2 separate regions of the Homo sapiens genome follow, and region 1 is linked to region 2. Evidence: fine-mapped expression QTL. A gene starts in region 2. The other region holds a variant in brackets. All regions are shown on one strand. Distances are from middle to middle.

Evidence for each region. PIP is the estimated chance that this variant, and not a neighbour inherited with it, causes the effect. A credible set is the group of variants that fine-mapping cannot tell apart.
Region 1: its variant is the best candidate, but not a certain one, in a credible set for the expression of CDK10 in whole blood (INTERVAL, PIP 0.84).

The regions. Positions count from the first base shown.
Region 1 is chr16:89,726,522-89,730,900 of GRCh38, reverse strand. ZNF276 (zinc finger protein 276) reads right to left here. Exons shown (of 11, transcript NM_001113525.2): 5 at 3,544-3,622; 6 at 1,583-1,666. Among named protein-coding and RNA genes, the nearest start is that of ZNF276, 7.2 kb to the right of the region's middle. RefSeq lists enhancers at 1,366-1,535, 1,673-2,244. The variant T/C (reference allele first, on the strand shown) is at 2,104.
Region 2 is chr16:89,684,859-89,689,237 of GRCh38, reverse strand. It overlaps CDK10 (cyclin dependent kinase 10), which reads right to left and starts at 2,549. Exons shown (of 13, transcript NM_052988.5): 1 at 2,441-2,549. The coding sequence starts at 2,527. LINC02166 (long intergenic non-protein coding RNA 2166) reads left to right here and starts at 2,326. Exons shown (of 3, transcript NR_184152.1): 1 at 2,326-2,791; 2 at 3,563-4,379. RefSeq lists a silencer at 2,115-2,364.

The sequences.
Region 1 (4,379 bases), 42 kb before region 2:
ACAGAAGTCTCTTCTCATGCGCCCCCAGCTGAGGACACAGGCGGGCACGCCCGCTAGAACTCCAAGGTCAGGGTTGACAAGACTGGGAGGCAGCACACGGGCCGGGGGCTGTGCAGAGGCCCTTCTGGGTTCCCAGGGGGGTCTCACGGTGGCAGCTGGGGAACCAAGTGCCCCTGGTACTCGCCGCAGTCAGGAGGCCATGCTTGCTACCACCCAGTCCTGCCTCCTGCGCAGCGGTTTCCACTGAAGTCACCCCTTTTATTAGAGACCTCTGAAAACGTATCTCCCGTGTCTCTGTTCCAAAGCACGTCTTTGTCTGCACTCCTGGGGTCCCAGAGGGACTAGTGACACAGTCTGAGTGTGCTGTCCCTGTCACAGCAGCAGGGGCTCAGCAGAGAGGACCCTCCCCTCCTGAATCTGCCTCGATCCGGAAAAGGCTCGCCTGGCTCCTCCCATCCCAGCTCCCAGCCCTCCTCACACCAGCAGCCCCAGACCTTCTGGGCAGCAAGCCAGAGACACATTCTCAGGTGTCCTGGGATTCAGACTCAACCCGGAGGGTCACGGAGTGGGGGCTTCCGTACAGCAGCCTCAGGCGGCACTCCCAGCCATGACTCCTGGGAACAAGCCTGGGGGTAGGGACCCCCGGGCACCTTTTCTGGGCCTGACCAGTTTTCTGTTCATGCTGAAGCTGCTGCAGCCCCTCTGGCTCAGTCCTGCCCTCTGCTTCGCATCTCTCTCCGGGCCTCCTCCACTGCTCCCGTTTCTCTTTTCAGAACTTAACAGCATCAGAACTTCCATGAAAAAAGGCCGTTGACCTCTCAGTCTGCACAGCAGGGTTCTAGTGGCTGACGGTGGTGCTCAGAGCCACCTGCCCTCTGGACCTTTGTTCTGGGCTGTGAAATGCTCAAGGACAGGGACTGGGTCAGTCACCAACTACCTGGGAGTGTTCTGGGTACTGCTGGGTATAGGGCTGCAAAGAAAACAGCACAAGTGAAAACCAGCCCTCACTACCAGGGCCTGTGTTCTAACTGAAGAGAGAAAATAAAAATCCCTAAAAACAAAGTCAAAACAAGCTCACAGAAGTCATTCAACAGGGAAGTGGACCGTGGCTGCCTGGCCATGGACATCAGTGATGGGGTCAGAACTGGGAGGATGACAGAGCTGGGTCCTCGGGCCTCTGGGGACGCACACAAAGCAGAAGCGACGGGTTGGGGGCTTCGGGGGTACACTGGGGTGTGAACCCAGGGCAGGACCGGCAGAAGGGACGTAAGAGCCTCCTTCTCAAGCAAGGCGGGGTTCTGTCGACAGAGACACCTGCCATCCACTGCTGGGACTCTGAGGCAGCCTCACAGTGCCGAGACCAGGTCCCAGCTCCAAAGCACCAGGAGGACCCACCTTCTCACCTGCCCGCCTGCCCCTCCCCCGCCTCCCGCTCACTGAGGGAAGCCACGTTTCACTGGGCTCGGGAGATCCGCACACGAGAGAGTGAACTGAGTGGGCACCGGGGAGAGGCCCTGGAGCACAGGCGGGTGTCTAGGTCGCCCAACGGATGCCTCCAGCAGACCCCGGGCTGCCCACTTACTTCCTTTCTGGGTAAGGCTCAAAGGACTCGTCCGAAGACTGGGCATTTTGCTTCTTGTCATTTTCATCTTCACTCAAGACGTCTCTAGGAATTAAGAGAGAATCTTCAGCAAAGCCCTGGGCCTGGGCAGTGACAGACCCAACACGACCTCCTGCCTAAAGATACCAAATGGACCCCCATGTCCCACATTTGAGTTCTTCTGAAAATGTCTTAAATCTAAAATCCCCAAATTTCCAATCCCGTTTCCGAACACAAAGGGCCAGCCAGGCTCACAAGCCAGCAATCCCCACAAGCCATGTGCTCTGGGCACCAGGACACTGGACTTGGAAACAGCCCTTTCCACAGCGGCCCAGAAGGGGTGGAGGCGCTCAAAGGTAGCTTCCTGCTAAGCAGACTTTGAGAAATCGACCACCTCACCCCATAACTGCGAACCCTATGCAACTGATGGGTTTGCCATGAGTCACTTCTAAGTTCACAAAAGTGGCTGGGTGCAGAGGCTAACTCCTGTAATCCCAGCACTT[T/C]GGGAGGGTGACGTAGGTGGATCGCATGAGGTCAGGAGTTCAAGACCAGCCTGGCCAATACCGTGAAACCCCGTCTCTACTAAAAATACAAAAATTGGCCGGGTGCGGTGGCTAACACCTGTAATCCCAGCACTTTGGGAGGCAGAGGCGGGCGGATCACGAGGTCAGGAGATCAAGACCATCCCGGCTAACAAAGTGAAACCCCGTCTCTGCTAAAAATACAAAAAATTAGCCGGGCGTGGTGGCGGGTGCCTGTAGTCCCAGCGACTCAGAGGCTGAGGCCGGAGAATGGCGTGAACCCGGGAGGCAGAGCTTGCAGTGAGCCGAGATTGTGCCACTGCACTCCAGCCTGGGCAACACAGCGAGACTCCGTCTCAAATAAAAAAAAAATAAATAAATACAAAACTTAGCTGGGTGTGGTGGCGGGCGCCTGTAATCCCAGCTACTCGGGAGGCTGAGGCGGGAGAATCACTTGAACGCGGGAGGTGGAGTTTGCAGTGAGCTGAGGTCACACCACTGCACTCCAGCCTGGGCAACAGAGTAAGGCTCGGTCTAAAAAAAAAAGTTCACAAAAGGAAAAAAAAAAAAAAAAAAAGATTTGTGGCCTTTATGCTATAACCTCAGCTGCGGTTTTGTGTCCTGGTGGTCCTGAGGACAGTCTTAGCCACCCCAGGTGCCTCCTGGCACCTGCCCGATTTCATCACTGCACATCCCACTGGGATTGGCCCCCAAACTGGGGTGTCCTCATTTGGATGAGGTGCATCTGTGTTGCAGCCAAGGTTTACAGGAGAGGGTGGAAACGGTGCAAACCCCAGCCTGGCACAGCTGCCCTGAATGGCGCTTGGCTCAGAGGCAGGGGTGGCCCAGGGAGTTTGCAGACACTGATGAGGTCCCTTCTGAGGCCCGTCCTCCTGCAACACCTCCTCGCAGAGCCTCGGCTTCAAGCCACAACAGTGTCATAGTCAAGGGCTAAAGTCGGGGTTTCTCTACTCCAGAAACATCTGGAGCGAACACAAAACTATGGCCCTAAAACAGTAGCAGAAGCAAAGGACCCAGCCAGAGTGGTTTCAACAAACTCATTTCTAGGCTGCTCTGGGTCAGAAACCCTATCAGGCTCCCTCTGGAGCTGCCTCAGGTCTGGGAGTGCTCTCTGGCACCCAGGAAACCATCAATCAGAGACAAGAAGCCTCGGAAGCTCCCCAGCCCCTCCTCTCCCGCCACCTCGAGAGGAGGCGTGTCCCAACCAGGGCACGGACAGCCGGCCCCTGTGATGGCTTAGTTTGGTACCAGCGCATGGGCAGCCGACCCTACGATGGCTGTTTGGTTTTTGAAGGAGAAATTTTAGGCTGTTTAAACCCACTCTTCTCTCACCCCTCAGAAAGGTCACTGATGGTTTTTGAAGGAGAAATTTTAGGCTGTTTAAACCCACTCTTCTCTCACCCCTCAGAAAGGTCACTGAACTCGTCTTTTACCCGATCATCCGAGGTTGAAGATGGAAGCTGCTTCTCACCCAACTGCCCTGAGAAACAAAGAACAAGGCTCCTGTTACCAACACGGAGCACAGAAAGGTCTCACCTGCAAGGAGGCATGATTCTACTATTGATGACTAGAAGGGAGACTGGGGTCCCTGACCCTCAAGTTCTCCCCACCATGGCCCCATCCCCACCAAGGGTGCTATGCAGCCTCTGATCCTGCCCTGCCAGCCCAACGTCCAGAAGCACACAGGCAGCAACAAGCATCAGAACCCTCAGGAACAGCAGAACCAGAAAGCCCAGTCCTTCCACTGACTCCGATCCAGTCCTTCTAGGACAGCCTGGACTTGGTGGATGTTCTGAGACATTTAAAAAATTACTAGGCCAGGCACGGTGGCTCATGTCTGTAATCCCAGCACTTTGGGAGGCCGATGCAGGTGGATCACGAGGTCAGGAGATCGAGACCAGCCTGGCCAACGTGGTGAAACCCCATCTCTATTAAAAATACAAAAATTAGCCGGGCATGGTGGCACACACCTGTAATCCCAGCTACCTGGGAGGCTGAGGCAGAAGAATCGCTTGAACCCGGGAGGCAGACATTGCAGTGAGCCGAGATCGCGCACTGCACTCCAGCCTGGGCAAAAGAGCAAGACTCCGACTCAAAAAAATAAAATAATTAAAAATTACTATTCTCAGTCCGGGTGCAGTGGCTCACGCCTGTAATCCCAGCACTTTGGGAGGCTGACGCGGGTGGATCACAAGGTCAGGAGATCAAGACCAACCTGGCTAACATGGTTAAACCCC
Region 2 (4,379 bases):
TGTTGCCAGTGTGGAAATTTGGCAGCTGATGGAACAACTGAGGAAATTTCAAATGGAATTTGTACCAGGGAGCCCACTCACGTCTTGCTCACCAAACAGAAAGGCAACCACACGTTTGGGCTTTTTTTTTCTTTTTTTGAGACTGAGTCTCGCTCTGTTGCCCAGGCTGGAGTGCAGTGGCAAGAACATGGTTCACTGCAACCTCCGCCTCCTGGGTTCAAGTGATTCTCCGGCCTCAGCCTCCTGAGTAGCTGGGATTACAGGCAGGTGCCACCACAACCGCCTAATTTTCTATTTTTAGTAGAGACTGGGTTTCACCATGTTGGCCAGGCTGGTCTTGAGCTCCTGACCTCAAGTGATCTGCCCGCCTTGGCCTCCCAAAGTGCTGGGATTACAAGCGTGAGCCACCGTACCCGGCCTCTTGGGCTTTTCTGATGAGAAAAGGTGGTGACGATACTGGGCCAATGCTTTGAAAGAAATATCAGAGGCGGCCACTCAGATACTCCCTTTCAATCCCACATACAAAAATACATCTGTGGCAGAGGCTGCTGTCCCAGCATCCCTGTATCACTACCTCCTGGAAGTTATGAAACGCTACCCAGTGGCATCTGGCCTTGGAATGTGAGCTGAAGGGACCGTGTGACTTCCAGGTGAAAGGAAGCTTTCACCTCTTCTCACCTCAGTGACGGGAAGAAAAAATGGAACCAGAATGCCTGACCCACCTGTGCAAAACAACTGCTTCTCTCCAGAATGTTAGGGGAGAGTGAAAAAAGGCATCATCTTGAGGCCCTGTATTTTGGGGTCTCTGAACTAGTAGAGTCTGTATCCTTCTCCATGGATCTAAGAAGCACATGTAAGCCGGGCGCAGTGGCTCACGCCTGTAATCCCAGCACTTTAGGAGGCTGAGGTGGGTGGATCACGAAGTCAGGAGATCTAGAGCACCCTGACTAACACGGTGAAACTCCGTCTCTACTAAAAATATGAAAAAATTAGCTGGGCGTGGTGGCGGGCGCCTGTAGTCCCAGCTGCTTGGGAGGCTGAGGCAGGAGGATGGCGTGAACCCAGGAGGTGGAGCTTGCAGTGAGCCGAGACTGCGCCACTGCACTCCAGCCTGGGTGACAGAATGAGACTCCGTCTCAAAAAAAAAAAAAAAAAAAAAAGCACACGTAGCAAGGTTTGAAACCTCACAGCCCCCATTTCCCGGCTTCCCTTCTCTTAACCCTCAGTATCAAACCTGGGCTCAAGCAATCCTCCCACCTCAGCCTCCCAGATTGCTGAGATTACAGGTGTGAGCCACTGGCCGCATTTGTCCTCAGTCTGATTCCTTCCTGACACCTGGGGACCGAGTCAGAAGCATCTGGCCTGTCACTCACTGATGGCCTAGTCTCAAACTCCCTTTCCCGCCTTAATTCCCCTTCTCACATCCTCTGCTTGTGCTCTTCTCGACACGCTTATTTCTGGGTGTCCAAATCCTTGTCACACTTCCTGAACTCAAAGAAATGCCAGGCCAGGCTGGGGGCGGTGGCTCACGCCTGTAATTCCAGCACTTGGGAGGCCGAGGCAGGAAGATCACTTGAGCCCAGGAGGCTGACGATGCACTGAGCCGTGATCACGCCACTGCATTCCAGCCTGGGCGAGAGCGCTAGACCCTGTCTCAAAAAAACAACAAAAAAGAAAAGGCCAACTCACTACTTCACCCCAGAGTCCAGCACACGGCTCTCAACGCGGTGAGCGCCTGCTGCACGTCTGGATGAGTAAAGTGTGGCTCCTGTTGTCATCCAGCCACGATCTGTTAATGATTCTTACTGAACACGTGGCTTGGCCTCTCAGAGCACCAGCCAGCAGTTAAAAACACAAACCAGCGGCCAAAGTTCAGGGCTCTCCACCCCCACCAGCCGTGCACCTGGGCAACACCGCCCAACGCCCAGAGGCTCTCTCCTGGTCTCTGCAGAGGGAGGCACCGGCACCTCCGCAAGGGACGCGCCCAGGGTTCGCGTGAAGCCGCCAGGCAGCGCTGGACCCCGCTCCATGCAGCCCAAGCCCAGCGGGAGCCTTCAAGCTCGAACTCGTCGCGGGTGTAAATTCTCCCCACAAACAAGTGGCTCGCGGCTCAGCCTGCAAAGCCCAGCTCGGGCGCTGAACCCAGCAGCGCCCGAGCTGGATCCCGGAGCTTGCTCTTCCCAAGTCCCGGGCCCGTCTCTCCGCGGGCGCGAGGCATCCCTGAGCCCGCCCCGGCCCCTCAGATCTCCAGGGACCGGCTGTCGGGGGTCCTGAGCCCGCCCCGCCCCGGCTTCCGCCCCCGCCGCGGGGAACTCTGGGACTGTCGTTCCCGCCCGTGCCGGAAGCCTCGGCGCGGCAGCGCGACACGAGGCTCCCCAGACCCAGCCGGGCAGTGCCGCTAGCGAGGCGGGCAGAGCTGCCCGGGTGGCACCCCGCGCACCCTGTGTTCCGGAGGCACCGTGAAGAAGCCCTCCTTACGAATACACTTCAGACGGATCTGCTCGCACTCCAGATCTGGCTCCGCCATGCCGAGCGCTGGCCCCGCCTCTCTTGCGCGCAGGCGCAGACGCGGACGGCCCCGCGGCGCAGGCGCGAAAGCTCCTTCCCGGGCTTCCTCTCCTTAGCAACGGTTACCAAGAGACGCTCCCGCGGGTCCGCCCTAGGCGCTGGGCTCCAGGGATCGGCTCCGACTGCTGCAGTTCGGGCCTTATTTTAGGGTGAAGCCCGGGCAGCCGACCCGGCTGCGCCGTAGTGGGAGGCCACGGCGATTACCCAGGTGAAGGTCTTCCAGGTGAGACGGGTTCCCCCAGGTAAGAAGGTCCTCCAGGTGGGAGTCCTTCATGTGGGGAGGTCCTCCAGGTGGGGGGGGAGGGTCCTCTCGGTGGGGGGTCCTCCAGGTAAGAGGATCCTCTAGGTGGGGGGGGGGGGTTCCCCAGGTGAAGGGCCCTCCAGGTAAGAGGATCCTCTAGGTGGGGGGGGGGTTCCCCAGGTGAGGGGACCTCCAGGTAAGAGGATCCTCTAGGTGGGGGAGTCCCCCAGGTGAAGGGCCCTCCAGGTAAGAGGGTCCTCCAGGTGAGAGGGTCCTCCAGCGGAGGGGGTCCCCCAGGTAAGAGGGTCCTCCAGTTGGGAGTCCTTCAGGTGGGGTGGTCCTCCAGGTGAGAGAGTCTTCCAGGTGAGAGGGTCCTCCAGGTGAGAGGTGAAGGTGAAGGTCCTCCAGGTGAGGGTCAGGTCACTTGGTCCAGGGATGTGGCTTCAGCAAGCATTTGGGTGCCTCCTCTGTGTTCAGGACATGGGGACTCCAGGAGACTGAAGGAAGCAAGTGGCAATGTCCATGCTGTCAAGTTCTGTCACAGAAATAAGCAGGAGTGAGTGAAAGACAGGAGAGAAGCTCTGTGAGGGGTGGCATTCAAGCTTAGCTTCTGGGCAGGAAGAGGCAGCTATGTCAGCATTCCCTAACAAGGTTTGGCAAAGTAGATACCTCCCCTCACTCATGGAAGACCTGACTTCCCAGGCTGGTAGAAGCTTCTCTCACAGGCACCTGCCTCTCCAATCTCTTTCACAGCCCAGCCCTGGAAGGTGGAAAAAGAAAAGTTGACATGGAATGTTTAGGAAGCACCATTGGTCCAGGTCCAGGATCGGGGCAGCCAGCATGTCCTCTAATCTGGCTTCACTGTTGAAATCCAGTCGAGCAAGCAGGGCCCAAACCACTGCGAGACCAGCTCGGTCGGGCCCAAACCACCGCCCACTGCGAGACCAGCTCGGTCGGGCCCAAACCACCGCCCACTGCGGGACCAGCTCGGTCGGGCCCAAACCACCGCCCACTGCGGGACCAGCTCGGTCGGGCCCAAACCACTGCCCACTGCGGGACCAGCTCGGTCGTGGAGACCCTAACCCAGCGGCGCTAGAGGAATTAAAGAAACACACACAGAAATATAGGGTGTGGAGTGGGAAATCAGGGGTCTCACAGCCTTCGAAGCTGAAAGCCTCGAACAGAGATTTACCCACATATTTATTGACAGCAAGCCAGTGATAAGCATTGTTTCTATAGATTATAGATTAAAAGCACTTCTTACGGGAAATAAAGGGATGGGTCTGGCTAGTTATCTGCAGCAGGAGCACGTCCTTAAGGCACAGATCGCTCATGCTATTGTTTGTGGTTCAGGAACTCCTTTAAGCGGTTTTCCGCCCTGGGTGGGCCAGGTGTTCCTTGCCCTCATTCCAGTGTGGGAGTCATGGCCATCATGAGCATGTCACAGTGCAGCAGAGATTTTGTTTATGGCCAGTTTTGCGGCCAGTTGATGGCCAGATTTGGGGGCCTCTTCCCAACAGCCCACAGCCAGACCTAGACTCCATTCAGATTGGTTTTGATCAGCATGTAG